4 linked regions of the Homo sapiens genome follow. The protein of the gene in region 4 interacts with the protein of the main gene of each other region in a pairwise test. Each region holds a gene or a part of one and is shown on either strand. Other genes may lie near its edges.

What was found.
Region 1: the proteins of RAD23B (region 4) and USP25 interact in binary tests that used the Homo sapiens proteins (3 or more experiments, as listed by UniProt).
Region 2: the proteins of RAD23B (region 4) and MKRN1 interact in binary tests that used the Homo sapiens proteins (3 or more experiments, as listed by UniProt).
Region 3: the proteins of RAD23B (region 4) and RSC1A1 interact in binary tests that used the Homo sapiens proteins (3 or more experiments, as listed by UniProt).

What each region holds. Positions count from the first base shown.
Region 1 is NC_000021.9:15,872,969-15,879,995, reverse strand, and holds part of USP25 (ubiquitin carboxyl-terminal hydrolase 25), read right to left. Parts: intron 5,594-7,027; coding exon 5,470-5,593; intron 2,201-5,469; coding exon 2,005-2,200; intron 1,694-2,004; coding exon 1,521-1,693; 3' UTR 1-1,520. UniProt on the Homo sapiens protein: Deubiquitinating enzyme that hydrolyzes ubiquitin moieties conjugated to substrates and thus, functions in various biological processes including inflammation and immune response.
Region 2 is NC_000007.14:140,476,492-140,483,795, forward strand, and holds the start of MKRN1 (E3 ubiquitin-protein ligase makorin-1), read right to left. Parts: upstream 3,015-7,304; 5' UTR 2,854-3,014; coding exon 2,669-2,853; intron 2,498-2,668; exon of another isoform or gene 2,346-2,497; intron 2,172-2,345; exon of another isoform or gene 2,109-2,171; intron 1,907-2,108; exon of another isoform or gene 1,888-1,906; intron 1-1,887. UniProt on the Homo sapiens protein: E3 ubiquitin ligase catalyzing the covalent attachment of ubiquitin moieties onto substrate proteins. These substrates include FILIP1, p53/TP53, CDKN1A and TERT.
Region 3 is NC_000001.11:15,655,413-15,662,547, reverse strand, and holds RSC1A1 (regulatory solute carrier protein family 1 member 1), read right to left. Parts: upstream 2,836-7,135; 5' UTR 2,680-2,835; coding exon 826-2,679; 3' UTR 515-825; downstream 1-514. Other genes in the region: DDI2 (protein DDI1 homolog 2), read right to left, coding at 5,915-5,931. UniProt on the Homo sapiens protein: Mediates transcriptional and post-transcriptional regulation of SLC5A1. Inhibits a dynamin and PKC-dependent exocytotic pathway of SLC5A1. Also involved in transcriptional regulation of SLC22A2.
Region 4 is NC_000009.12:107,286,254-107,293,280, reverse strand, and holds part of RAD23B (UV excision repair protein RAD23 homolog B), read right to left. Parts: intron 1-7,027. UniProt on the Homo sapiens protein: Multiubiquitin chain receptor involved in modulation of proteasomal degradation. Binds to polyubiquitin chains.

The sequences.
Region 1 (7,027 bases), on a different chromosome or scaffold from region 4:
CTAAACTTTTAACAGGACTGGAAAACCAATGCAGAAATCTGCTCAGTAGACAACTTAAAATCTAAACCCAAACATATTTTGATAGATACAATATGCAAAATCTAACTTTACAACAGGAATAGTACTAATTCCTTGTCATTAACACCTTACTAGTACATTAATACCTTTACAAACAGCATCATATAATAGCATAATATTTCATCTTACTCCTCCATCCAGGATCTTTTGTGAGAGGCACTAATAAAGAACACTAGTTTTGGCGACGCTGTATCAAACATACACATAGTATAATGGTCTATTTTACTATGTTCACAAAACATCATTTATAAAGAAATTTTTATGAATTCAAAAATAGGTTGTTAGTAACATGATTACCTTTAAAGTATGGATTTTGATTTTCATTCACAATATTAATTCATTAATCTTAAACAGTAGTTTCATCTACAAAATGTTCTACAGCTTTTTCCTTTTTGAAAAGGAATAAAGGCAGTTAAGATACTCATAACTTCTAGTTAAACAACATCAATTTTGTTTCACAGTATTAATTAGTAGAGAACATTTTCAATTAAAGTGATATACAATTTACAAAAATAGAATGATTTATATATTGCAAAACATTGTCCTCCATTATGAAGAATATATATATACATGTGTGTATGTGTATATATGTGTATATATAAATATTTCTTTTAAATTTTACAATAGCCCTTATTCAAGTACTTTGGGATTCTCTTGAAATAATCACCTTGCTGTATATTGTAAATACATTTAAAAAGTAAGATTAATCTAAGAAAAGGATAAAAGTTTCAGTGTAGTTTGACTTAAAAAAAATCAACCACTTACTTGAGTAAAAACCTGACTGAATTCAAAACAGGTTCCGGTGCCATACTAAGTTCAAGAACTTTGTTAAAAATATAGATAAATTTAAGTGTCAAAGACTTAAACATTTTCCAATTTGCTAGCATTAGAGCAGAATTAAAAGATTGTATTAATCTATTAACTATCCAATCTTAATCCCCAGACAAAATTCATTTATCTAGTATTACTAATACACTAATATACAATATACCTGCTTACAAACACATAGGTAGCCATAAATAAAACTTTATTCTTTATTTCATTTACAAGCTACCAAATATTATGTATCGTACACAGTGCTGAACACTTAAATGGCTGTAGTCATGGAAGGATCCAGACTGAATGGAAAGCTGTTGAGAAAGAAAAGATAAAAGCAAAGTAATACTGCAACAGGAAGGTGGCAAAAGCATAGTTTTGCCATAATAAAATCAATTAGATTTGTGATTATACATCAGTTCCGGTTAAAATGTCTGAGCGCCATGCGATTTTCAGCTTTATTGTCTGCAGTCTGACTAAAGTCTGTATAGTCATTTTGTCTTTTGCAGTTATTAAAATAAAAAAAAGTTAAAAACTATAGCAGCAACAAGCAAACCCTGTGACAGGAAGGCAAGGGTTAAGAACTAAAAAGAGTTTATACAGTGTGTTCAGGGAAAGTGTGCAGTTTATCTTCCATCAGCAGGAGTTCGACTGAGGGACAACATGATTCGGGCAAATCGCTCACAGAGTTCATGCGTGGAATATGAAGGTAACTTCGGTGGCTCATGGAAACTTTTAATCTCCATAGAACAATCAAGCAGTTTTGGCAAAAAATCTGTCAGCTTTTCTTGGAGGTGTGCTGCAAATACAAACAATTAAATCTAACTAAAGATAGAAATTATTACACGATCATTGTCAACATGATTTACTAATATTAACTTACTCTAATAGGTAAGATAATTGCCATTTTGGGGAGACAAAAACATAAATGGCAACTGCAATGCACACAGCTTAGTTCATCAATATGGAAAAAGAGTAATCATGTGAATGTGAAAATATTAATACTTAATATTGTATTTAATATAAAAAATGGCAAGAATAAATAACATCTAATTCTAACTGCATTTAATCCGGACATCTCAGGTGCCTACTACCATTGTTTAAACTTACGTTCCATTTCTTGACCAAGGTAGGAACACCATCGATTTCTCATATCTTCTACAGCTAGTATATCCTTTTCTTCCATTTCATCCACCAGTAATAATGGCAAAAATGGGACAATAAACTCATTCATGATAATCAAACCATTGTTTACTTCTCGATCCTCTCCAGATTCGAAGAGTTCTGCGGCTTGCTCATTTAATTTCTTAATGCAATGCAGGAAAAAAAAAAGAATAGGTTTTTGTTTCCTTTTTAAATTAAGGATCTGTAAGTATTAATAAGGAAGACAACATAAATATGTTCACAAACAGTATTAGAACAAACGGTATTTAGAGAAAACAATCTCAACCTATCTAGAACTGAAAATCTCTCTTTAGAAAAAGCTATGCATATGGCAACAACAGAAACAAAAGCAACAGCGGTGGAGAAAACATTATTGTGTTTTTCAGTCATGTTTGGCTTATGCCGATCATCAACACAGGGGCCATTTTTTCTTCTCTAGAGATTAACTTCCCCAAATTATAAAATTGTATAAGCACTCAAAATAGTTTTAAAAATAAAGAAATTCAGAATCCATATTAATTTTTGAAAAACTCATCTCCATTAATGGCAACTGAATATATACTATTGTATTCCTTGATACAGAAATATAAAGGTAATCAATTCACTTTTCCCTTCAAAAACTTCCTACAGAGTCAACACCACGTGCCAGAAATTTCTGCAGATGCAGGGGCACTCAAGTGATTAATACAGAAAACTCTCATGGAGCTTACAATTTGGTACAAGGATTGGCAAACTTTTTCTGTGAAGGGCCAGACGAGGACTATTATAGGCTTTGAAGGCCATGAAGTTTCTGTTGCAACTATTCAACTCTGCCATTGTAGTACAAAGACAATAATACCCAATATATAAATGAATGTGCATGGCTATGTTTCAATAAAACTTATCTATAAAAACAAGTGGTAGGTGGAGCACAAGCCATAGTGTGCTGATCACTGATCTAGTAGAACAGAGAAATCCATGCAATAAGAAACATAAGAGATAAATACAGGTATAAGACCTATAATATTTAAGGGTTCTTATTTAAAATCTTATGTTTACAGCATGATAAACATGACTTTTAAGCTGAATTTCAAATAAAAAAAGTTATATATTTAGATTTACACCACATAATTCTTATGCAATTTATTTTGATTTTGGAAAGATGGTTGTGCTATTAAGTCCAACTTGGCCATGAATCAATTACCCAATTGATATGGTTAGGCTTTGTGTCTCCACCCAAATCTTATCTTGAATTGTAACCCCCAGGTGTTGAGGAAGAGACCTGGTGGGAGGTGATCAGATCATAGGGACAGTTTCCCCAGTGCTGTTCTTGTGACAGGGAGTGAGTCTCATGAGATCTGATGGTTTCATAAGCATCTGGCATTTCCTCTGCTTGCACTTCTCTCTCCTGCCACCATGTGATGAAGGTCCTTGCTTCCCCTTCACCTTCCGCCATCATTTTAAGTTTCCTGAGGCCTCCCCAACCATGTGGAACTGTGAGTCAGTTAAACCTCTTTCCTTTATAAATTACCCAGTCTTGTGTAGTATCTTTATAGCAGTGTGAGAACGGACTAATACACCAATCGTGAACAGATTAGCTAAATCTGTTAGCTTCACTTTCTTTATATTAATAATAGGGTATTTTATCTTCCAACCATAGGGGTTAAGAGAATAAAATGAGATAAATCTTCAAGTATTTACTACAATTTTTGGAAGTATGCATTAAATGATATATAAAATTTAATGACAAGTTTAATGTTAAGTTCACTGAATCAAAGAATGTCCTGGAAATCTCTTAAATAAAACATGTTCAAAGCCAACCTTGTTCCTCCTATTAGACTCCCTAATATTAAACGAAAAACTAGTAAGTTTGGCAGCTTTGACTCTTCCATTTCCTTCTTCCCACTCACCCAACAGCTATGACATGCCGATTTCATTTCCTTCACCATCATACCTACCGTACTACATGAGTTGAGGTCCTCACTCTCCGTCCCTTGACTTTCCCCTCTAAGGTTCTTGACTTCAATCTACTTCTTTCCTGTTCATCCTCTAGAATGCTATTATTATTACCAGAATTATTTTCTGAAAACAAACCTCATTATGCCAAACCTAATCAAACTTACACTGGTGCAAACTCATTTGAATGTCATCTAAGTTTCTTCATCATCTGACATCGACAAGTATTGTCAGCTTCATCACTTCCACCTTACCCCACTTCCTCATAACCTGGATAGCCACAGTGAATTTATCTTGATTTTCTGTTGTGTACTGGAATATTCTCCCTTCTCTATCATGAATAAAACTTCTATTTATCCATCAAGATCCAGACGAGGTTTACCTTGTCTCTTAAGGTTCTTCCCAAATATTTCAGGCATATCATTGTGCATATTTCTCATAATGGCACTTATTCCAGAACAAACAATTATGTCTCCTACCAGACTGAGTTTTCTGAGGACAGGAAGTACATCTTACTCATGTTTGTATCCCTCAGAACCTGACACTTTGTAAATATACAACGTGAAAAAATCTGAAAGGAACACTAAAGTAATCTTGACGAGGTTTCATTTCAATTCCTATGTAAAACAAATAACCAAATGTGGCTGGGTTACTACAAAAAATGATGAGAAACATTATACCATTTTTTGAAGGTTTCAGAGGAACCATCAGGTTTTGGTTCTATGTATGTTTAAAGTCAGCTATACTATTCTTGTACCTGAAAATTCAATTTTTTAAGTTAAACAAATTACTCTAATACATTCTATGTATATTCTTGTTTTTTTGAGACAGAGTCTTGCTCTGTCACCTGGTTGCCAGGATGGAATGCAGTGGCGCGATCTTGGCTCAAGGCAACCTCCACTTCCCAGGTTCATGCGATTCCCCTGCCTCAGCCTCCTGAGTAGTTGAGACTACAGGCGCACACCACCATATCCAGCTAATTTTTGTGTTTGTGTATTTTAGTCGAGATGGGGTTTCACCACGTTGGCCAGGATGGTCTCGATCTCCTGACTTTGTGATCCACCAGCCTCAGCCTTCCAAAGTGCTAGGATTACAGGCATGAGCTGCTGCGCCAGCCTGCATATTCTTATAGACTTACATAAAACATTTTTTAAGGCTTATCTATGCATCCCTTCCTCTCCCACCAAAAAAAGGAGTGGTAGTGTGATGACGAAATCTAAATACAGAAATGTAAACAAACTGATGCTATTTTAAGAACATTTCTCATTTATCACCTATAGTACTTGGGATTCATAAAGAGAAAAGAATAAAGTACTGAGTGTACTTTTCCATCTGAAGGGACTAGAACCAGTTTATAGACATCATCATGTTCTTATCCCCTCAGAGTTTATGGAGTCAATCACTTATATATGAGTCTGGAAAACTTGCCCAATGTCAGACAAAATGATAAGATCATACTATATGCATTCAACTTACTAGCAAACATTCTCTTCTATAATGTGATATCAATTCTTCATCATGTCCTCTGTATAAGCCTTTAGACAAGAGTTCTTTGTTATTCTGATAAGCACAGATGAGGAACAGCAAGGAATCTATATAACTTGAAAATTAAAAAGAAACATATAACATTAGTATTTCACCTTTGTAGAAACAAAGTCAGCTATAATTATGAAACATTTTAAGTATATGCTTAAGTTTTGATAATCTACATTATAATAAAAAATATCATCTGACGCAGTGTATGCTTGAGAGCGCCTTTTTAGCAACAGCAACATCTGAAACCCAGAGATAGTTATCTTAAAAGTAAAAAAAGAAGAGCTATAAATTAAGAAAAAATCTGGGAAAAGAGGCAATAACTGATAAAGTCAGATAGTTCTGTTTTCCTTGGTATTTATTTTCCTGATGTCTTCCATTTAAACTCAAAATTGGAGCTAATGTGAAAGCCAACAATCTAATTGTTTAACGCAATGTCACATTTATATGAAGTAAATGATCACAAACATCATTTGGTTTGTTCAATGACAACTTAGACAGGTTCTTTTCTATGTGCAGACAGTTTTAGTTACTGAGAAAAATGTAAAAAAAAAATAGAAATAAGAATATCTAAAGGAAATAGAGGAAGTGGACAATGAAAGATTTCTTCTAAATCTGGGAAACCTAGTGGAATAAAGCAAAAACAAAAAGCCTGCAAACATAAAAAAGCTGATAGAGGCCGGGTGCGGCGGCTCACACCTGTAATCCCAGCACTTTGGGAGGCTGAGGCAGACGGACCACCTGACGTAGGGAGTTCGAGACCAGCCTGACCAACATGGAGAAACCCCGCCTCTACTAAAAATACAAGATTAGCCGGGCATGGTGACACATGCCTGTAGTCCCAGCTACTCGGCAGGCTGAGGTAGCAGAATCCCGGGAGGTGGAGGGTGAGGTGAGCTGAGATCACGCCACTGCACTCCAGCCTGGGCAACAAGAGCAAAACTCCGTCTCAAAAAAAAAAGAAGTGATAGAATTAGGCATATGTGTTATATTAATGTAAGTCTAGATATTATGAAATTCAAATTAGGTTTTAAAAAGGGAAGAAAAGGGGCCAGGCACAGTCGCTCATGCCTGTAATCCCAATACTTTGGGAGGTGGTGGTGACAGGATCAGCTGAGGCCAGAAGTTCAAGACCTGCCTGGCCAACATAGTTGACACCCCCATCTCTACAAAAACATTAAAAAAAAAAAAATTAGCTGGGCATCGTGGTACATGCCTGTAGTACCAGCTACTCAGGAGGCTGAGGAGGAAGGACTTCTTGAGCTGAGAAGGTAAGAGGTTGTAGTGAGCCATGATCATACCACTGCATTCCAGCCTGCGCAACAGAGCAAGACCCCAACTCAAAAATACAAAACAAAACAAAAATGGAAGAAAAAAATATTTAATAAAGAATTACTTTTACCTCAAAACTATCCTTCTAACATGTCAAAATAAAAACTATATCTAGCCAAGTATTTGTATAACTGAAATAAAAAATATTATTTTAAAATATTTCCTTTGC
Region 2 (7,304 bases), on a different chromosome or scaffold from region 4:
AAGATACACATGTGTTCTGTTAAGTACTTTGTCTTTGGTAATTTACAAGTTTTGTTTTTTTTTTTTTTAATGAAAGCAGAGGAATCTTACAAAGTTCCTGTTAAAGTGGGTAATTCTAGGTATATGACTTTATCAACATCACTCAAGCATTTACTCAGTATCTGCTCAGGATACTCAGTAACTGAGTATCCTGTTCATGATACTGGAACTGAGGAAAGAAACTGAGGAACTGAGGAAAGAAAGCCCTGCAGATAAAATAGGGCCCTACTCTTCTCAGAGAGCTCAAAGTGAACGATAAGGATCATAGACCGGGTGCGGTGGCTCACGCCTCTAATCCCAGCACTTTGGGAGGCTGAGGCCGGCAGATCACCTGAGGTCGGGAGTTCAAGACCAGCCTGACCAACACGGAGAAAGCCCGTCTCTACTAAAAATACAAAATTAGTCAGGTGGGCATGGTGGTGCACGCCTGTAATCCCAGCTACTAAGGCATCTGTAATGCCAGAGACTGAGGCAGGAGAATCAATTAAACCTGGGAGGCGGGGGTTGTGGTAAGTAGAGATCACACCATTGCACTCCAACCTGGGAAACAAGAGGGAAACTCTGTCTCAAAAAAAAAAAAAAAAAAATGATAGTTGACATTCCTCTATCTAAAGGAGAAAATAGTTTTAAGTAAGAGATCATGTTGGTACCTAGAACAACCGAAAACAATGTCAAACACTAAAACCCCAGACCTATCAAGGAATCTGCACAACAATAAAAAACTGTCTCAAGCAAAAGCTATACAAAAAACCCCCAAAAACTAGTAAATCTAAGCTCTTTCTTTTCTTTCTTTTTCTTTTTTGTTTTTCTTCTGACAGAGTTTCACTTTCGCCCAGGCTGGAGTGAAGTGGTGTGATATTGGCTCACCGCAACCTCTGCCTCCTGGGTTCAAGCAACTCCCTGCCTCAGCCTCCGGAGTAGCTGAGATTACAAGCGCCTGTCACCACGCCCGGCTAATGTTTTTTGTATTTTCAGTAGAGACGGGGTTTCACCATCTTGGCCAGGCTGGTCTTGAGCTCCTGACCTCGTGATCCACCTGCCTTGGCCTCCCAAAGTGCTGGGATTACAGGTGTGAGCCACTGTGCCCGGCCTAATTTTTGTATTCTTAGTAGAGACAGGGTTTCACCATGTTGGCCAGGCTGGTCTCGAACTCCTTACCTCAGGCGATCCGCCCGCCTCAGCCTCCCAAAATGCTGGGATTACAGGCGTGAGCCACCACGCCGACCTAGCCACCCCGACAGGCCGGTTTCAATCTTTTAAAAGATGTAACTAGCACATATAGATCAACTGTAGCATTGTAAAAGGGAAACAGATATTCAAATAATTTGCTCCATGAGTAGAAACTTTAAAATCATCATTCCTGGCAATATTCCACTTTTACAATCCACCGATGAATAAGACAAGTGACCTGAAATTGCGTTTATGCTTTCTACATCCCATTATGTAAAATAATTAAGCTTATCCTTCACACCTTAAATGTATCATATCAAAGGCTGAGAGACCTTCGAAGGTCGCCAGGATAAATGTATCACATCAAAGACTGGGAAGGTTTCAAATTTCACCCTTAATACTACAAGTTCTAATTAGGAATCATTTTTACATACTTGCATATAAATTATACCACCCAGGTGAAAACCGGCATTTCAGTTGATTTATTCAACTGATAGAAAAAGAAAAGCTTACAGTCGCTACTGATCACTATTTAAAAACCGGAAAATAAAAAACGTACAATTAAATGCCCTCTTCTGCGTAGAGCTAGGTAGTTTTTTACAACCATACACATCCATACAACCGCCATCCCTTAATTTTTCTAATATTTTCGTCTCGCATATCAAACCAAAACCAAACCTCTCTCTCTTCCGGGAGCGAAGAGCCCTTTCACTCCCTTCGGAAGATGCGTAAATTTCAAAAGAGGAACATAGCGCTGGGGGAGGGTAATAATCTGCAGCTCAAAAAAACCGCGGGTGGAGAAGACGACCCCGGCCCCCGAACGCCTGCTTCTAAGACAAAGCTCAGCACCGCCAACCTCGACAAACATACAAAGAAGAAATACAAAAGCTTCTTCTCACAGTTGGGCGGAGGATGGGGGGCGGAGGGACGGAGGGACGTGAAAAGACGTTACAAACGGATGGCACGGAGAGAGGAGAGGGCCGGGAGCCAGGCAAGCTCGCTGGGGCCCTCGGCGGGGTGTCTAGGCCCGGAGAGGATCGCTGGGAGACCGGCCTCAAGTGACCACCTCCCGAGCCCCGGGAGCCGGAGGCAGCGGCGGGGGCATCCTTCCAGCGGCAGGGGAGGAGCCAGCCCACCTCTCCCCGATGCGCTCGCAGCCAGCTCAGGCAGCGCTCAGGGAAGTGTAAGCGGCGGTGCAGCCCCGCGGCTCCGCAGTAATCGCGCACCGCCAGGCCTCCGCGGACAGCGCTGAGGGCTCCGCGGCCCAGCGGGGGTTGACGCAGTGACTGGGGGAACGCGGCGGCAGCGGGGGCCGCGAGGGCTGCAGAGATCGAGACAACGCCGGTCCCCGCCCTCCCGCGCCTCTAGCCGCAGGCCGGCCGCCCTCCTCCCTCCCGCGCCGCAGGCTTGGCCCGCGGCCCCCTCCCCGCGCCCGGCGCTCCGCCGCGCAACGTCCTACCTGCAGGTGACCTGTTTAGTCCAGCCGCCGCCGCTGCCGTCGCTGCCGCCGCCCCCTCCGCCCGCCCCCAGGGACGGGGCGGTGACTGTGGGGATCGGGGTGGGGGAGGCTGCTGCCGCCGTCGCCGCTGCCGCTCCTGCTCCTGATGTTGTGGCTGTTGTTCCGGGAGTTGCAGCCTCCGCCATTACTGTTTATCCCACACAGCAAAGGCCCCGGAACTTCCGGGATCACATAGTTCCGGTCCGGCTGCGGGGAGAGGACGGCGAGGCCAGGCGAGGGGAGGGGAAGGACACTGAGGCACCCGTTCGGTCCCCGCCTGCTACGCGTCGCGTATCTGAGCGCTCTCGCCACTTCAACTGCGGGCCCAGAGCATGCGCGCCCGCGGCCCGCCCACGGCGCCGCTCATTGGTGGAGGGGACGTCTCCTCCGGAAAGGGGCGGGGCAAACGGGGGTCTGTACAGGTGTGTCCTAGGCTCGAAACCCCGGCGACGAAAGTCCATAGTTAGCGGCTTTCTTCCTAGCAGAGGCTGATATAGTGGAGCTGGGGCTGGGGACTAGGGACTTGCAGTCGGAAGACCTGGGTTTGAATCTGCACTTTCCCATTTCTCTAGTAATATTTGAGCTAGGTACTTGTTCTATCTGAGCCTCCGTTTCAGCCTCTCTCGAATAAGGATGACAGCAGACCCACATATGGTTGCTGTGAGGATTATATGATGTCCTTAGAAATCACTGAGCTTAGTGCCTGGTACATGGTAAACACTTAATAAAGGTTATCTCATTCCTGGTATCAGAGATGTGATCTTGGCCAAGTATTTTGGCTGAGCAATGCTCTAGAGGGCTGGTCCCCTTATCTCCAGGCTTCCCTTTCTAAGCCATGGGTCTTCTAGCAAATTATCCTACCTCTTGGTGCTCCTGCTTTCTCCTCTGTAAAAACGACAATAATAATAATAATAGGCCAGGCGCGGTGGCTCACGCCTGTAATCCCAGCACTTTGGGAGGCTGAGGTAGGCGAATCACCTGAGGTCATGAGTTCGAGATCAGCCTGGCCAACGTGGTGAAACCCCGTCTTTACTAAAAATACAAAAATTAGCCGGGTGTAGTGGCTAGTCCCAGTTACTCAGGAGGCTGAGGCAGGAGAATTCCTTGAACCCGGGAGGCGGAGGTTGCAGTGAGCCGAGATCGCGCCACTGCACTCCAGCTTGGGCGACAGAATGAAATTCCGTCTCAAAATAATAATAATAGTAATAGATAATAGTACCTACTTCAGAGATGGCTGTGAAAGTTAAATGAGAATCTGTTTAAAAACCTTTGTACTGGCCGGGCGCGGTGGCTCACGCCTGTAATCCCAGCACTTTGGGAGGCCGAGGGGGGCGGATCACCAGGTCAGGAGATTGAGACCATCCTGGCTAACACGGTGAAACCCCGTCTCTACTAAAAAATACAAAAAAATTAGCCGGTCATGATGGCGGGCGCCTGTAGTCCCAGCTACTCCGAGGCTGAGGCAGGAGAATGGAGTGAACCCGGGAGGCGAAGCTTGCAGTGAGCCGAGATCGCGCCACCGCACTCTAGCCACTGCACTGCAGCCTGGGCGACAAAGCTAGACTCCATCTCAAAAAAAAAAAACAAAAAGCAAAAAAAAAAAAAAAAAAACCCCTTTGCATTGTGCTTTTCACACTGCAGTGAATACATAATGAGTAACAAAATATGTCTGGAATATCCTAGCTTTTTTTTTAATGCGTCTTTAAAATTGTATGTATTTAAGGTGTAAAACATTGTTTTAATATACATGTACCTAGTGAAGTGATTACTACAGTCAAGCAGATTTAGCATATCACCTCACATGAATATTTTGTGTATGTGTTTGTGGTAAAAACCCAAGCTCTACTCTTAGCAATTTTCCAGTATACAATACAATATTATCTATTAACATTAATCATAGTCTTCCGCCGGGCACGGTGGCTCACACCTGTAATCCCAGCACTTTGGGGGCCGAGGCGGGCGGATCACAAGGTCAGGAGATCGAGACCATCCTAGCTAACACGGTGAAAGCCCGTCTCTACTCAAAAAACACAAAAAATTAGCTGGGCATAGTGGTGGGTGCCTGTTGTCCCAGCAACTCGGGAGGCTGAGGCAGGAGAATGGCGTGAACCCGGCAGGTGAGGCTTGCAGTGAGCTGAGATCACGCCACTGCCCTCCAGCCTGGGCAAGAGCGAGAGTCCGTCTCAAAAAAAAAAAAAAATCATAGTCTTCATGTGGTACATTAGATCTCTAGACTTATTCATCCTACACAGCTGCAACTTTGTCCCCTTTGACCTGATGTCCCCATTCCCCACTCCACTCCTGGTAAACCACTGTTCTACTCTGTTGCTATGTATTCAACTTTTTCACATCTTCACGTATAAGTGAGATAATGTAGTATTGTTCTTTGTGTCTGGCTTATTTCATTTAGCATAATGTCCTGCAGGTTTATCCATATTGTGGCAAATAAAGGCTACCACACAGGTAGTAACCTTTAGAGACACAATAGGTGGTAAATGTTTCTTTCAGACTTTTCAAGTTGTCAGACTCTCAGTTAATCTCTCTCAGGTCTGGGGAAGGGAGAGCCCGAAAGAAGGCTCTTGTAAATAGAGCCTTCTATTTTAAGGCTGAGAAATAAGGAATATCCTAGCTTCTGAGGATTACTTTTTTTTTTTTTTTTGAGACCGTCTTGCTCTGTCACCAGGCTGGAGTGCAATGGCGCGATCTCGGCTCACTGCAACCTCTGCCTCCCGGGTTTAAGCAATTCTCCTGCCTCAGCCTCCCAAGTAGCTGGGACTACAGACGTGCGCCACCATACCCAGCTAATTTTTGTATTTTTAGTAGAGACAGGCTTTCACCATGTTGGCCAGGCTGGTCTCAATCTCTTGACTTCGTGATCCGCCCGCCTAGGCCTCTCAAAGTGCTAGGATTACAGGTGTGAGCCACCACGCCCGGCCTGGATTACTTCTAAAACTATGAAAAGTAAAGTGTAGTTAATTTTTAATTTTGTTTAGGGATGAGGTCTCACTATATTGGCCAGGCTGGTCTCCAGCACCTGGGCTCAAGTGATGCTCCTGTCTTGGCCTCCCTAAGTGCTGGGATTATAGGCATAAACTACCATGCCGGGCCTCAGAGTGTATTTAATTATTTTTCCCCATAAGGCCTACTGTCCACTCAGATGCAACATATTAAACTCTGAGTTTCCATAGGCAGTTTTTCATAAGCCCTTAAGTTCGACTTTTCTGTAGTCTCTACGTTGAAAGTGAAAATCAGCCTATTAATCATCAGACCCCGATGTGCCCAACACAGGCAAACAAGGAAGGTGGCAAAAACAACAGAAAAGAATGCATCTCCTAAGGCCACACCACAGCAAGATAACTAACAATCCCCTCGAAGGAAACCAAAATATTTCACTTCACCTCAAAATATACACTTCTGGCCAGGCGTGGTGGCTGACGCCTGTAATCCCAGCACTTTGGGAGGCAGAGTTGGGCGGATTGCATGAGGTCAGGAGTTCGAGACCAGCCTAGGCAACATAGAAAAACCCCCGTGTCTACTAAAAATACAAAAATTAGCTGGGCTTGGTGGCGTGTGTCTGTAATCCCAGCCTGGCCAATATAGTGAGACCTTATCTCTAAACAAAATTAAAAATTAACTACACTTTACTTTTCATAGTTTTAGAAGTAATCCAGGCCGGGTGTGGTGGCTCACACCTGTAATCCCAGCACTTTGAGAGGCCTAGGCGGGCGGATCACGAAGTCAAGAGATCGAGACCAGCCTGGCCAACATGGTGAAAACCTGTCTCTACTAAAAATTCAAAAATTAGCTGGGTGTGGTGGCGCACGTCTGTAGTCCCAGCTACTTGGGAGGCTGAGGTAGGAGAATCTCTTGAACCCGGGAGGTGGAGGTTGCAGTGAGCCAAGATCAAGCCACTGCACTCCAACCTGGACACCAGAGTGAGACTCTGTCTCAAAAATAAATAAATTAATTAATTAAACTTCTTTGACGTATTTTAAGATACCACTTCATAATAAAAAAGAAAAAAAACAAATAAGATACCTCTTTGGAAGGGTTGGAAATACAAGAATAGAAGGAAAGCTGTCTTTTGTGGGAAAGATTTGCATCTGCAGAGAAAATCTACACTGAGGCAGCCCGGCTTTCTTTGGAGCCCTCCCTTCCCCAGATCTAGGAAACATTAGCTGAGAGTCTGACAACGTTTGAAGCCTGAAGGAAACATTTACTACCTATTGTGTCTCTGAAGGCTGCTACCTGCATGGTTTCAATGACCTAACAAGACCACTGTGGCTAGCCAGGCTTCTGCTTCTCTCCATCCCATAACTGCTGGCCACCATATGATTTACCCTTATATCCTGTTTTGGGATATGTTCCCCATTCTTTCAGTAACCTCAAGATGGAATATGAGCTTGCCCTCCCCGTTGAGGGGTTGGGATCATCACTCTCTTGTTCTCCCTGTGCACATTAATAAATGTGTATGCCTTTTCATCAATAATCTGCCAGGGTTTTTGTTTGTTTCTTTGTTTGTTTTGTTTGTTTTGAGACAGGGTCTCGCTCTGTTGTGTAGGATTAAGTGCAGTGGTGCAATCTCAGCTCACTGCAA
Region 3 (7,135 bases), on a different chromosome or scaffold from region 4:
AGGCCATTATTTTTCCCTCACAGTTCTTGACATCTGCAAATGGAATTATGGTTGTTCTGTTCTTTTAAGAATCTGGGTAGCACCACGTTTCACTTGCATTGTAACTCCCCCACAATATCCCATCCAATGTAATAAGGATTCATGGCAATCCATGCAGCAGCCTGTGATGCACAAAGTAGCCCAAGATTTAAACCCTCCTGCTCGCCCTATTAAAATGTCAAATCCTAAGCACACAAATAAAAACATACCACTCTACGATAAGATATTCAATTATTCTCCAATTTCCTGTTATAATTAATGAATCATGATACACAGAGCACTGGGTAGAATTCCAAACACCAAATTATGTGGTCAAAAGTTTCTAAATTGACAACTGAGCCAGCAAACCATACCTTGCCATCAGCACAGACACACAGTCACAGTGTGGAGAGTTCATCTGTTTTTAGCTGGATGGGTAGTGGGATTTCTCATGGCTTCTGCTTTTCAAAGCATTTACTCTCATTCTAAAACAGTATGCTACACACAAAACCATCCATTTTATTCCAGGATACATCTTAATGAGAATAAAAAGCTTCTGTATGCACATACTGCCAATACATTTAAAAAGGCCTAAATTTTAACAAGTAGGATAGACAAATTCATCAGACAAAAGATCATAAATTACTTTGGCCGAAAAAAATCTTTAAAAAAAATCTGGCTCAACATTCTGCTTGCAGGTTTCTATATATACTGTATATGTGGTGAGTGTGTATGTGTGCGTGTATATAGAGAGAGCTTTCTTTTGTTTAAAGGGAATGGAGAACGGTCTAGCCCACTTTCCCACAGTCATGTAGGAACTACGATGTTTTTTGCGAGCAAAACAAGAAGTGCAAGGTCTGCATTCCCACCAACTCGATGCAAAGCTCCAAGAGCTTCCTGCAAAGTAAAGCCAGCACGGAGAATGCGGTCAATATCTGTGGCAGGAAAAATCAATGGTGGAAGAATGGCAGGACTTGATGATGGATGGCTGGTAGGTGGTTCATATTCAAGTAATGGCCTCGAAGCATCAGGACAGACATTTTCTCTGGTTTCAGGCCTGTCTGTTACTGAATTCTGTATGCCCTGACCTAAGTCTTTAACCAATATGAAATTGGATGACAAAGACTTAGTTTGCTCAGAAGTCTGATTGAGTGCATCCTCCTCACCTGCTAAAAGTTTGGGTGAAATTTCTACACCTAAGGTGCAGTGTAACTGATTGGATGTTTTAGCTGAGGTTACAGTGACAGAACGGTTCTTATTTATGGATTCCCTAGATTTGGGGACACCTTCCTTATCGGTTGACAGGCCATCACCTAGACTCCTGAAGTTTACATTTTCTACAGCTTCTCTTCCAGTGTCAGATGAAGTACCTGTTAATTTTTCTGTCTCCACTGATACAGATATGGCCTGATGAAAGGAGACTTGTGGACACTGTTCATTCTGGGTAAGATGCTCATTTTGGGTCCATCTTTCAGAAAGGTCTTTAATACTGGTTTGGCCCTCAGCTATGGTTTCTGATTGACAGATTACTTCTTCAGATGTATTTTCTGAAGCTGGTTTACTGCTAACAACCAAAAGTTCATGAAGTTCTTTCAAGGCTGCCGTTATAGACGGGCAAGATTCTTCTGCTGACTCCACAGAAGGCTGACAACTGCCACAGAGACTTGGAGAGGAGTAATGGCCATATTCTTTATTTGTTCCAGGTATTTCAACATTAGTTTCTGGGGGCTGTAAATCCTGAGTGGAAATGGAATCATTCAAAATTTCAGATGAAGGGTTACATTTTGATGTTTCTACTTCCATCAAGGGATTATCTAAAGTGAGATCCAATGCACCAATGTTCTTGACATTGGCATTCTGCCTGCCTGTTGAATTAAGCAAAGTAACTAGGGACTGTTGAGCTGTATCGATTTCCATAAATGTTTCTGAATTTGAGCAGCCACTGCATTCTGAAGATGGAATACTTTTCTTCGCACTTGGAGGATCCACATTCTGTGGGAGCCCATTTCCTTTCATCGTAGCTTCCAAATCAACAATTTTGTGTTGATTCTGTTGCCTTTCTTCAGGAAGCTCAAGGTCCCCTATGTTACAAAGATATTCTTGGTCATGTGAAGCTTTTTGTTGTGCAACCTCATACTGTTCATTCCCTGGTTCTTCGTGCTGCTGAGGGTCACTCACTTGACTCAGGTTCTGATTTTCTGGATGCCAATCCTTTTCACCTAGAAACATCTGTGGTTCATGCATCCTAGTAGATGTGACAGATAAACTAGCTTCCTGTCTTGTATGGAGATGAAATTTGAGGCCCTGGGTGCTTCTTTCAGCAGATTTCTCCAGATTACCTGCAACAGTTATTTCTTCGGATGAATTCTGCATAGGCATAGCTGGACTCTGGTCTGTTGGAGCATGGTCTGCTGAGGAAGCATGATCAGAAAGATCTTGTAAAGAAAGATGTTCTTTCTTTTCAGAGTTTAGCTGGAATTCAGCTGAAGCCTTCAAAGCCTTCACAGCTTTAGGTTCAATGCGATCTGAGTCACTGGGCTTGATAGGGCAGACTGAAGCAGAGACAGAGCGAGCAAGACTCATAGGATTACCAACATCAGGACTCTGTCCTGAAGAACGGGCGGGATGGTTAAACCCATCTGAAGTTGGTAATGATGACATTCCCAGTGAGGTAGATTCTTTACCACTTTTCTCTATATGGAACACAGGGGAAAGGAAAAAGATTAATTAGCAGGTGACTAATGCCACTAAATTACCAGAGGATACAAATCTAAACAGCGTAGAATAAAATAAGGTCCTCAAACTCGGGTTTCTCTTACACAAATAGAAATGATTTTAAAATTACTTTCTCATTGTGGTAGACATTCACAGCATCAGAATAAGAGGTAGACATGTTCTTAATAAAATCTGCATACTGTAATTCAATGTGATTAAGTATCCATTAATATGCATTCACATAATGGCGGGGTTAGTGCTCAGGAATGAAGGACATTTATGTTTCTTTATTCCCTAGTCTAGTCTACAACTCTAGAATAGTTTCTCCAAGTGTACTTTTTTCACCACTTGCCCTAAAACCACCAGGGACGCTTGTGAAGTATGCAGACCCTGGGGTACCATACTTGAGAGTAAATCCAGGAATGTGCATTTTCAATAAGCTCCTTGGGTGATTCTTAAGGATATTACAAATCCTGAGAATCTTTGCACCAGAATGATTCTCATGTTAATGCACTTTTCTTGTTTCAAATGTGAACACTGAGGTTACAAATGAGAAGTCTTAAACCAGGTATACCTGGACAGAGAGGGAATTATAAAGAGAAATAAGAAATAACATAATGCTTGGGGACAGAGAAGCAAATGTTCTATTTTATTTCTAGCCAAGCTTTCCAAAAATCATGGTAAAACTGGGTGAGCATCTGACTCAGAAAACAAAAGTAAACTAATGATCAGCAGATTAAATCACAATCATCATCCTACCAAATAATACAACTCTAAACTTAAAAGGCTTATAAGTTTTTATCACATCAATAGTGTGCAACTAAGTTAAGAATATTTAAATGTTTTAAAGAAAGGGGAATGTGGAGGGAGATGGTTCATTAATAGTTTTTCAACTGGCAATGACTATTTAGATTCACTGCTACCTTAGACCACCCAAACAAGACGGCTCAGTGTAAGCATCATAGTATCATTAAACATCATTTCCAGCTCTTCTTTTGCCACCAATCCAGTTAAAAATTGACCTCTACGCATGTAAGTGTAAGAATTTTTTTTTTTTTTTAAGACTGTGTTTTGCTCTTGTTGCCCAGACAGGAGTACAATGGCGCCATCTGAGCTCACCGCAACCTCCGCCTCCCGGGTCCAAGCGATTCTCCTGCCTCAGAGTAGCTGGGATTACATGCATGCGCCACACACCCGACTAATTTTGCATTTTTAGTAGAGATGAGGTTTCTCCACGTTGGTCAGGGTGGTCTCAAACTCTTGACCTCAGGTGATCCGCCCGCCTCAGCCTCCCAAAGTGCTTGGATTACAGGCAAGAGCCACCGCACCCGACCATTGTAAGATCTTTAATTAAAAATCAAAAAGGGCTGGGCACAGTGGCTCATGCCTGTAATCCCAGCACTTTGGGAGGCCGAGGCAGGTGGATCACCTGAGGTCAGGAGTTCGAGACCAGCCTGGCCAACGTGGTGAAACCTCATCTCTACTAAAAATACAAAAATTAGCCAGGCGTGGTGGTGGGTGCCTGTAATCCCAGCTACTAGGTAGGCTGAGGTGGGAGAATTGCTTGAACCCAGGAGGGAGAGGTTGCAGTGAGCCAAGACTGCACCACTGCACTCCAGCCTGGGTGACAGAGTGAAACTCAGTCAAAATAAAAAATAATAATAATAAAAAATAAAAATCAAAAGGTCAGTAACAAAAATGACTTCAAAATACAATCTATTATTAGGACAGATGCAACTCAAATGCTCAGTACTAAATGTTAACATCCAACAAGAGGGCTTGATCTTAAAAAGCAGCAAAGCAGTTATATTCAAAAGGCTTTAAATCATTCTAATAAACTACTGGTTAACAGCATGAGAAGACAAAGCATTGTTTCAGGAAGCTATTGACTTCCCATGAAACAATCTTACCTTACTTACACTTTAGGAGTAAAAAGGAAAACTGCACTTATCTCAGTTTAGGCTATACCCATTAGAGTCTAGAAACACAGTTATTAGTTTTTTTATTTTCATACCACCAGATGTCTAACAGTTATTAGTTTTATTTAAAACTAAGGCTGACTCTGGAAGAGGTTGAATTTTGAACTAATGTTAACAGAAACAATGCACTGTAGTGAAATATCCATGTAAGCAACATAAAGAGGTATGGTAAGGGCCTTCTGGTATTTGTGTGTTAGTTATAAACAAGTGAGGTCAAGGTGAACACACCCTCAATGAATTTTGTACTAAAAAAGTAGCATATAGTCCTCTTGTAGCTGAGAAGGTCAGTTTCACTAGCCTAAGTCCTAAACGTAGGGGAGGACTAGGTCAGTTTACAGAATGACAGGAGAAGAGGATGAGGACAGTGGATATTAAGAATAATTCAACTATGCCTGCTTTTAACCTATCCTTACAAGGAAAAGAAAAAGGAAAGAAAGAAGAGAAACTAAATGCTATGTATCTAATTCCAACCAGCTTGCAAACTCCTACAAAGTCTTATGATGCTGGTTTAAAAGACCATCTTTCCTCCTCTTAGTAAGTCAGCCAATGTATTCGAGCTGATGTTTACCATTATTTACATCAGAGGAAATGGAAGCAGAGTGCTTCCTGAAAATCTGTCAGGCCAGAGACAGAAGGAAAAGCAAAGTCTTAGTTCCTGTTGTTCAGAGTCACCCCTGACAAGTCCTCTGGCCTAAGTTTCCATTTCTTCTTCAACAAAATTAAAATTTCTAACCCTCTATAACTCCAGGTAGTTGTATGCAGTAATGTAAAAGAACAGCTTTCAGTTTTTCAGAGGAAAGGCACTTATGAAACCCATGAAAGCATAGTTATCTCCAACAACAAAGTGTTGTGAGGCCAATATTCTTGATGTGATATTTATAGTAGCCAAGATGGGGTAGATATAATAGACACTGTTTTAACTGGGATTTTCTCCCTGTTGGATGGTTCTAATAACGAATCCATTTTTAAACAGGAGTTTATGTTACATATCCATGTATGCATGCCAAAATACAAATGCATATAGGCTAGTTGTAACCAGATTGAACAAGGTGAAATGGTGAATGACAAATGCTAACTTCCCAAACTGCTGCGGATACAGACTGTCAGATCACAGATGACAACTGGATGGAAGGCTTAACATGGTGTCTATAAATACCTGGTCTGGGGCCCACTCCAGCTGCAGTACACACACACTACATGCATCATGGCTTCTGACGCTCTGTGTGAATTAGGAAACAGACAAGCAAACTTGGGTTAACAATGCAAACCACACAGCATGCAGGGTTATAGTTTCCGTTCTTTTGCCATCTTTAAAATCAGGAACTGGTAGATTCCAAGTTGAGGGATGTTTCTGTAGTTTGGACATCCAAAATATTTGTTGGTTGCTTCCATTCTCTCACAATACACACAGCAATCTGTTAATTTCAACAGATTTTTAATAGATCTTGTAAAGAAATTAATTTTGTTTCTACACATAGAGAATTCACGGGCAAATGTGAGACAGGTGAAGAAAGTAGATCCACCTGATCGAATTAGGTGATTAAAAAAATCTTATGGAGTAAAGGTGAGTGAACATATCTAACAGTCCCTTTCCAAATTTCTTTCTCAGCTGAGATTCAATTTTAGAGGAAAACAAACCACTTAATTAAATTCTATCCTAGCTTATCTTTTCATCAGTTTTTAAATAATACATCAAGCTGAACACAGTGACTCTGGCCTGCAGTCCCAACACTTTGGGAGGTCCAGGAGGGAGAATCCCTTGAGGTCAGGAGTTCAAAATCAGCTGGGGCAACATAGTGAGACACCATCCCTACTATCAAAAACATGTTTTTTTTTTAAAACATTTTAATATAGAGTTTATAATAGAGTATAAAGTATTTAAAAAATAAGCTCTTTTTTTTGTTGTTTTTTTGAGACAGTGTCTCACTGTTGCCTAAGTTGGAGTGCAGTGGTGCAACCACAACTCACTGTAGCCTTGATCTCCCCAGGATCAAGTGATCTTTCCACCTCATCCTCCCAAGTAGCTGGACCACAGGTGCATGCCACCATGCCTGGCTAATTTTTTTTCTTTTTTTTTTTTTTTGAGAAGGAGTCTCACTCTGTTGCCCAGGCTGGAGTGCAGTGGTGCAATCTTGGCTCACTGCAACCTCTGCTTCCCGGCTTCAAGCAATTCTCCTGCCTCAGCCTCCCGAGTAGCTGGGATTACAGGCGCCCACAACCATGCCTGGCTAATTTTTGTATTTTTAGTAGAGATGAGGTTTCACCATGTTGGCCAGGCTGGTCTCAAATTTCTGACCTCAGGTGATCCACCCTTCCTCAGCCTCCCAAAGTGTTGGGATTACAGGCGTGAGTCACTGCGCCCAGCCGTGGTTTTTTTTTTTAGAAACAAGTGTTTTGCCATGCTGCCCAGGCTGGTCTCAAAT
Region 4 (7,027 bases):
CCACAAGAACAGTAAGATACTGCTGAAGTAAAAGTGTGACTTCTGAGGCTGGTTTATATATAAAAGCCATCGTTTCTATTTTGCTCTCTTGGATCACTAACACTGGGAGAAGCCAGCCACAATGTCATGAGGACATATGGGGAGGATCTGAGGCCTCCAGTCAATAACCATCACCAAGCTGTTAGCCATGTGAGGAAGTCACTTTCAGTGGGAACCCTCCAGCCAGTCAAGCCTTTAATGCATAGAATGAAGTCCTTAAATCCAACTTCCTGAGACTCTTGAGTAAGAACCACACAGCTAAAATATCCCTGAATTTCTGACTCACAGAAATTATGAAATAGTAAGTGTTTACTGTTCTAATTAAGTTTTGGGGTAATTTGTTATGCAGTAATAGGTTAACTAGTACACAGGTAGATACTATTATCCTCTTTTTCTAATGGGGACACTAAGGCAGATGAAATAAAAAGGTTAAACATACAGGCTCTAGAGGCAGAGTCTCTAAATTTGAATCCTGGCTACTCATATGGGAGATGGTATTTGTAAATAACAAGTATTGTTAATGTGTGTAAGTACTGACCAGGCTTTTTTTTTTTTTTTTTTTTTTGACAGAGTCTCGCTCTGTCACCAGGCTGGAGTGTAGTGGCACGATCTTGGCTCACTGCAACCTCCACCTCACGAGTTCAAGCGATTCTCCTGCCTCAGCCTCCCAAGTAGCTGAGACTACAGGTGCACGCCACCACACCTAGCTAATTTTTTGTATTTTTAGTAGAGACAGGGTTTCATCACATTGGCCAGGAGGGTCTCGAACTCCTGACCTCGTGATCCGCCCACCTCAGCCTCCCAAAGTGCTGGGATTACAGGCATAAGCCACGGCGCTCAGCCTGACCAGGCATTTTTAAAGGCAATCTGCCACACTTTGACCAAATAATTTCGCATCTAGAAATCAATGCTAGAGGTGCTCATGTAACTACTTCAAAGACAAAGGTACAAAGTATGTGCACTACATTGCTTTTTGCAATACTAAAAACTGAAAACCACCCTAAACATCCACAAAGGAGAAATGGTAAAATAAATTAATGTACATAAATTCATTTGAACATTATGCAATATAAATGAATATTTATAACTATGTTTGAGGAAAAAAAGCTAGTTGCTAATTAATTTTTTTAAACAAATAGTGTAGTTGTGTTCATGTATTATGTGTAAATGTATTTTTTGAAAAGACTAGAGGGATATACAGAGTCTACAGTGGTTCCTTAGACCGATGGCAAAAGCCATTCTCATTTTACTATACTTTATTTACTATAATGAGCCTGAATTACTTGAGTAATTTAGGGAAAACTGGACTTTCAAAGAGAAAAAGAGATTTCATTTAAAAGAAAAAGGTCTAAGGCAGTTCTAATACTACACGGCCTAATTAAAAAATAATAGCAGCAATTAAATTTTGGCAATCAACAATTAGCAAAATAAAGGAGATTCCCAAAGCCAAATGTGTACTAAAGGATTTCTTATGTTTACACTACAGGTAATGCTTTTTCTTTTTTGGTTCTTCGGTTCTTCTCCTTCCACTTGAGAAACTGGTACAGGCACCAGAGTATTTCCTGGGGAATTTCTGTCCCAAGGTAGGTTCCTGATATTTCTACAAATACAAATTTGATTTTAAAAATGTCAGCTGACTTCAGTACAAATAGGAAAAATCTCCTCACTGGACCCAAGGAATAAAATAATTTAGTACAGGAGATTTTTACAATTGAAACAATAACTGATAGCATAACATTAATTATGTGAGAAGAGGCAGGCACTATAACAAAGGCAATCCTCAAACTGGGGTTATGATCCAAAAGGCTATTATTTTAAATATATGATTTGAAATCCAAAACCCATTTGTCCCACAGAAATTAAGCCAACCAATTCATGCCAATTTAATCTATTATAAAATATATTCCTAACAGTATGATTTCAACAAGACCAAAAGAAACACAGGAATTTGAAAACTGAGTAAGCAGAATTCCCAAGATACCTGTAAGTTTCTATATAGGCAAAGAATGGATCTCGCCAGTGCACTAGCAAAAACAAGGTGCCTACCTAATTCAACCAGAAGTGTGTGGGGAATAATTGGTGAGAACAACTTTATCTACCTGTTTAAGCCTCCAGAATCTGTTCATGTATTGTCAGTCATTTGTAGCTGGTCTACCTCCTCGAAATAAGTTTATACAATGTTTACAAGTTTTATAAAGCTCATTCAGTTGTAAAATTAGCTTTCGTGACACTATAAAAAACATTTATTTATCTAAACTTACAGGGAACAGATGGTGTAGTGTCCTTCGTACGATTCACTGTGCCACAGTAGGGTTAAATTTAGCAAATTTCTTTCAGAAATTAACTGGAATCCTATACGGCATCTATCGCGGCAGGACCTTGTTCATTGATTTTACACACTGTTCAAAATTGCTGATTATGTCAATCTAAGAAAATGAGAATATCTCATTCATACAAACCTTTTAAAGAAAGAATAGTGAAATGATCGAAATAAAAACTGATGAAAGCAGGATTTGTTTAAAAACTGCAAAATTTATTTCTAATTTCACAATTCACTAAATATTTCCATGCCCATGATCTCACCTGATTTTCACAACTGTTAGGAAAGCAGTTCAATTATTATTACTCTCATTTTAATAAAGAGGAGAAAGACTTTTTTAAAAGTATTGTGCTTAAGGACAAAGCACAAGTACAAAGTTGTGAGGACTCCCTTTTAGGAACAGTATGGTGGATCTGAAAAGAGCAAGATGTGGAAAAAAGTAAACAGAATTAAGAGATACTCCTGAATTTTCTTGAGAAGCAGGGAAATAGGGCAGCAGCTAAAGAGGGATGTGGACACAAGGGAGTGTATCATTAAGATGGGGAAAAATGTTTGTATACCCTAGAAATGGGAAAAATCAGTGATGAAGAGAAAAGATCTGATGGAGTGATGTCCTTCACACATGACAGGGGATGAGGTACAGTGGAAAAGTGGAAGGACCTGCCTTAGATAGCACCGCCCACAATTCAGAACTATCTACAGTAAGAAGAGGCTAGCAGGTAGGTAGCTACGGTAGGACCTTGTAGACATTCTGTCTCGATTATTTCCAAATTCTCAATCAAATAAAGACTAGGGTCATCAAGTGAAAATAAGCAGGCTAGATGATATGAAAGCATCCTGTGGCAGTGGAAGAGTGACTGGACTAGTAAACTGTAAGACTGTCAGGTGCTGCATACTAAGGACCCAATTAAGGTTCCTTAGTGTGCCTTAATGTTCCTTAGTGCTCATGAACTTAAGTTCCTTAATGTTCATAAATTTAAGCAAGACAAGTCAATGTGGCTACAAGGTGCATCTCTGGCCACTCAGGTGCAAGTACAAACACTGAGTTGAATTTAATCACATTTGAGGCTTTCTAAGCAAGAACAATGGAGGGAGAGTGGTACCACATTGCCAAGCACTGTTAATATTATTTCAAAACCCATATACCAATAAGTTAGTACTTTCATACTAGTATTCTCATTTTACAGCAGAGGACCAAAAGGCACATACTGAGTAACTTGCCTGAGGTGACACAGCAAGTGGTACAGCCAACTGTACCTCTCAAAACATATCCTAATTCCATCTACTTCTCTACATCTCCACTCCTACTGCCCTGGTTCAAGCTGCAATTACTTAAAACTACTGCACAAGCCCCCTAACTGATGTCTCTGCTTTTCACTCTTGCCCACCCCACAGCATCAAAGTAACCTTTAAAAATCCTACAAGAAATATTTCTTGGCTAGGTGTGCTGGCTCATGCCTGTCATCCCAGCACTTTAGGAGGCTGAGGCAGGAGGATCACTTGAGGCTAGAAGTTGGAGACCAGCCTGGATAAAACATCAAGACCCCATCCCTACAAAAAAAAACTAAAATTAGCTGGGCGTGGTGGCATGCCCCCGTAGTCCCAGCTACTGGGGAGGCTTAGGGTGGAGGATCACTTGAGCCCAGGAGTTTGGGGCTGCAGTGAGCTATGATCATGCCACTGTACTCTATCCTGGGTGACAGAGCAAGACCTTGTTGAAAAAGGAAGGGAAGGAAGGAAGGGAAAGGAGTGGGGAAGGAAGGGAGGAAAGGAGGGAAGGAGAGGAAAGGAGAGGGAAGGGGGAAGGGAGGGAGGGAGGGAAGAAGGGAGGAAAGGAGGGAGGAAGGGAGGGAGGAAGGGAAGAAGGGAGGGAGGAAGGGAGAGAGGAAGGGAGGGAAAAAGAGAAAAGAGAGACAGAGACAAAGAAACAAAGATTTCTGTCCTGCTTGTAAATGTTTCCAAGTTTACCCTGAAAACCCCTAGCCTAACTCACTTGCCTAACTCACTCTCTTATCTCTTACCCAACTCACCCTTATCTCTTACCCATCACCTTAGCAATGCAGGCTTTTTTTCAGTACCCAAAACACATTCTTAAAGGTCTTTGCTCTAGCAGTTCCCTATAGAAAACATTCTCTTCATTCTCGAGTGCTCATTTTTACTCAGCTCTCAGCTTAAATGTCACCTTATTCAGAAAGGCCTTCAGTGACTAGTAAATTTAAAAGTAGCCACCCAGATCTCCTGAGCTCAGGAGTTCAAGACCACCCAGGGCAACATGATGAAACCCTGTCTCTACTAAAAATACAAAAAAATTAACCAGGTGTGGTGGGGCACACCTCTAGTCCCAGCTACTTGGGAGGCTGAGGCAGGAGAATCGCTTGAGCCCCAGAGGCGAAGGCTGCAGTGAGCCAAGATGGCGCCACTGCACTCCAGCTTGGGCTACAGAGTAAGACTGCATCTCAAAAACAAAACAAAACAACAACAAAAATGTAGCCACCCAGTGAAGTATTATCAAATACTTTATCCTATTTCAACTTTCTGCATAGCACTTACCATTACCTGGTTTTTAAAATGTATTTTTTGACAGTTTTATCCCACTAGAATGCACATACCATCACAGCAGGGCCTGACATCTAGTAAGTACACAGCAAATATTTATTAAATAAATAAATCAACATGCAAACACACTACGTTGGGGGATCACTGCTTTGCCAGTTCACCAAAAGAATATATTCAGTTCATTCAAAGATCTTTACTAAATGCCTACTGTGTGCACGGCATCAAAACAGCAAAAGTCTGGCAAAAATGTACCAGATTTCTCAGTTTCTTCCTGTATCTTGTTCTGCCAATATGCCAAGAACTCTTAATTTCACCTCTGTGATATAGTATTTTTAATACATTTACTACTCATTACCTTAATCTAGGAAGCTTGTATAATATGAAATTGTATCTAGCATGACTATATTGAAAATACAATAAACCACCACAGGAATACTTCACTAATAAATGATGGCTAGTAAATACTGTATAATACAGAGCAAGTACTAAAGCAATATACACACACAGTTTTTTTGTTTTTTTTTTTTTTTTGAGATGGAGTTTCGCTCTTGTTACCCAGGCTGGAGTGCAATGGTGCGATCTCAGCTCACTGCAACCTCCTCCTCCCAGGTTCAAGCGACTCTCCTGCCTCAGCCTCCTAAGTGGCTGGGATTACAGGCATGCACCACCATGCCCAGCTAATTTTCTATTTTTAGTAGAGACCAGGTTTCACCATGTTGGTCAGGCTGGTCTGGAACTCCTGACCTCAGGTGATCCACCCGCCTCGGCTTCCCAAGGTGCTGGGTAAAGCAGTATTTTATAACAATCACATTATAGAGGTAAACCACGAAATTAGGTAATTCTTCACAGCACACTAATATGCTATTTATAGATATTAAAACTGATGTCTTTGCAATTCTCTTAGCAAAAACATCCAATGTATATGTAGAATTTTAATGTCACTTATATACTAATCCAATCACATTTCAGCTTTTGCATTTAAAGTCTCATCTCAAATTTACTGAGTTTTGTTTTTAGTTGTTCAAGGCAAACAGTGTCAAGAGTTAGACTGCAGGATTAATTTGTATATCACATACTTTTTCTTGTCACCATTTCAGTGATGCAATAAAATACTGCACTGTATTTTTTTTATCTCAAAAGGTTTATTCCTAAATCTACCTTTCTTAATGTTTTTAAGCAACAGTAATATAAAACACTAATTGACTATAAAACTGAGCTTAAAAACTGTATTCCATTTCCCTCTAAATGTCCATCACACCATTAAACTTCAGAATTTTTTTTTTTTTTTTTTGAGACGGAGTCTCGCTTTGTCGCCCAGGCTGGAGTGCAATGGAGTGATCTCAGCTCACTGCAACCTCTGCCTCCTGGGTTCAAGCGATTCTCCTGCCTCAGCCTCCCAAGTAGCTGGGACTACAGGTGCATGCCACCACGTCCGTCTAATTTTTTGTATTTTTTTTAGTAGAGACGGGGTTTCACCGTGTTAACCAGGATGGTCTCGATCTCCTGACCTTGTGATCCGCCCACCTCGGCCTCCCAAAGTGCTGGGATTACAGGCATGAGCCACCACACCCAGCCTAAACTTCAGAATTTTTAAGAATTTCAGAGAAGCAGTGCTCTATCACACATCTCAAAATGCTTTAATATGTAGGCTACTTAAAAGTCTCCCACAATTTTTACAGTAAAAAACAAAAAAAGCACATAATGAAGAAAATCTCCTAGCAATGGTCTCCCTACCCCACACATACCACCTTCTCATTTTGTTTCTATATTGTTTGAATATTTTATAAGAAGGCTTGCATTACAATTGTAGAAACAAAAAGATCTTTGCAAAGATTAACACTAAAGGCAGTGGTCATGTAATGTATCACAGTAATAGTCAAGTAAATGGTACAAAATGCCTAATAAGTCTAAGAAAGTTTTGTTAAAACTAGGGCAAATAAAAACACCTTAAAACAAATTATCTTGCTCTTTCCATTTTGTATATCCCCCTACTCTATAGCCAATGAGCTTTGACTAAGTCAATAAGGCTCCCAGAAGCCCCAGACCACGTTCTACAGGTCCCTGTACTCCTCCAGTCCTGCCAGCAAAGCTCACTAAACATTTACTTGTTCA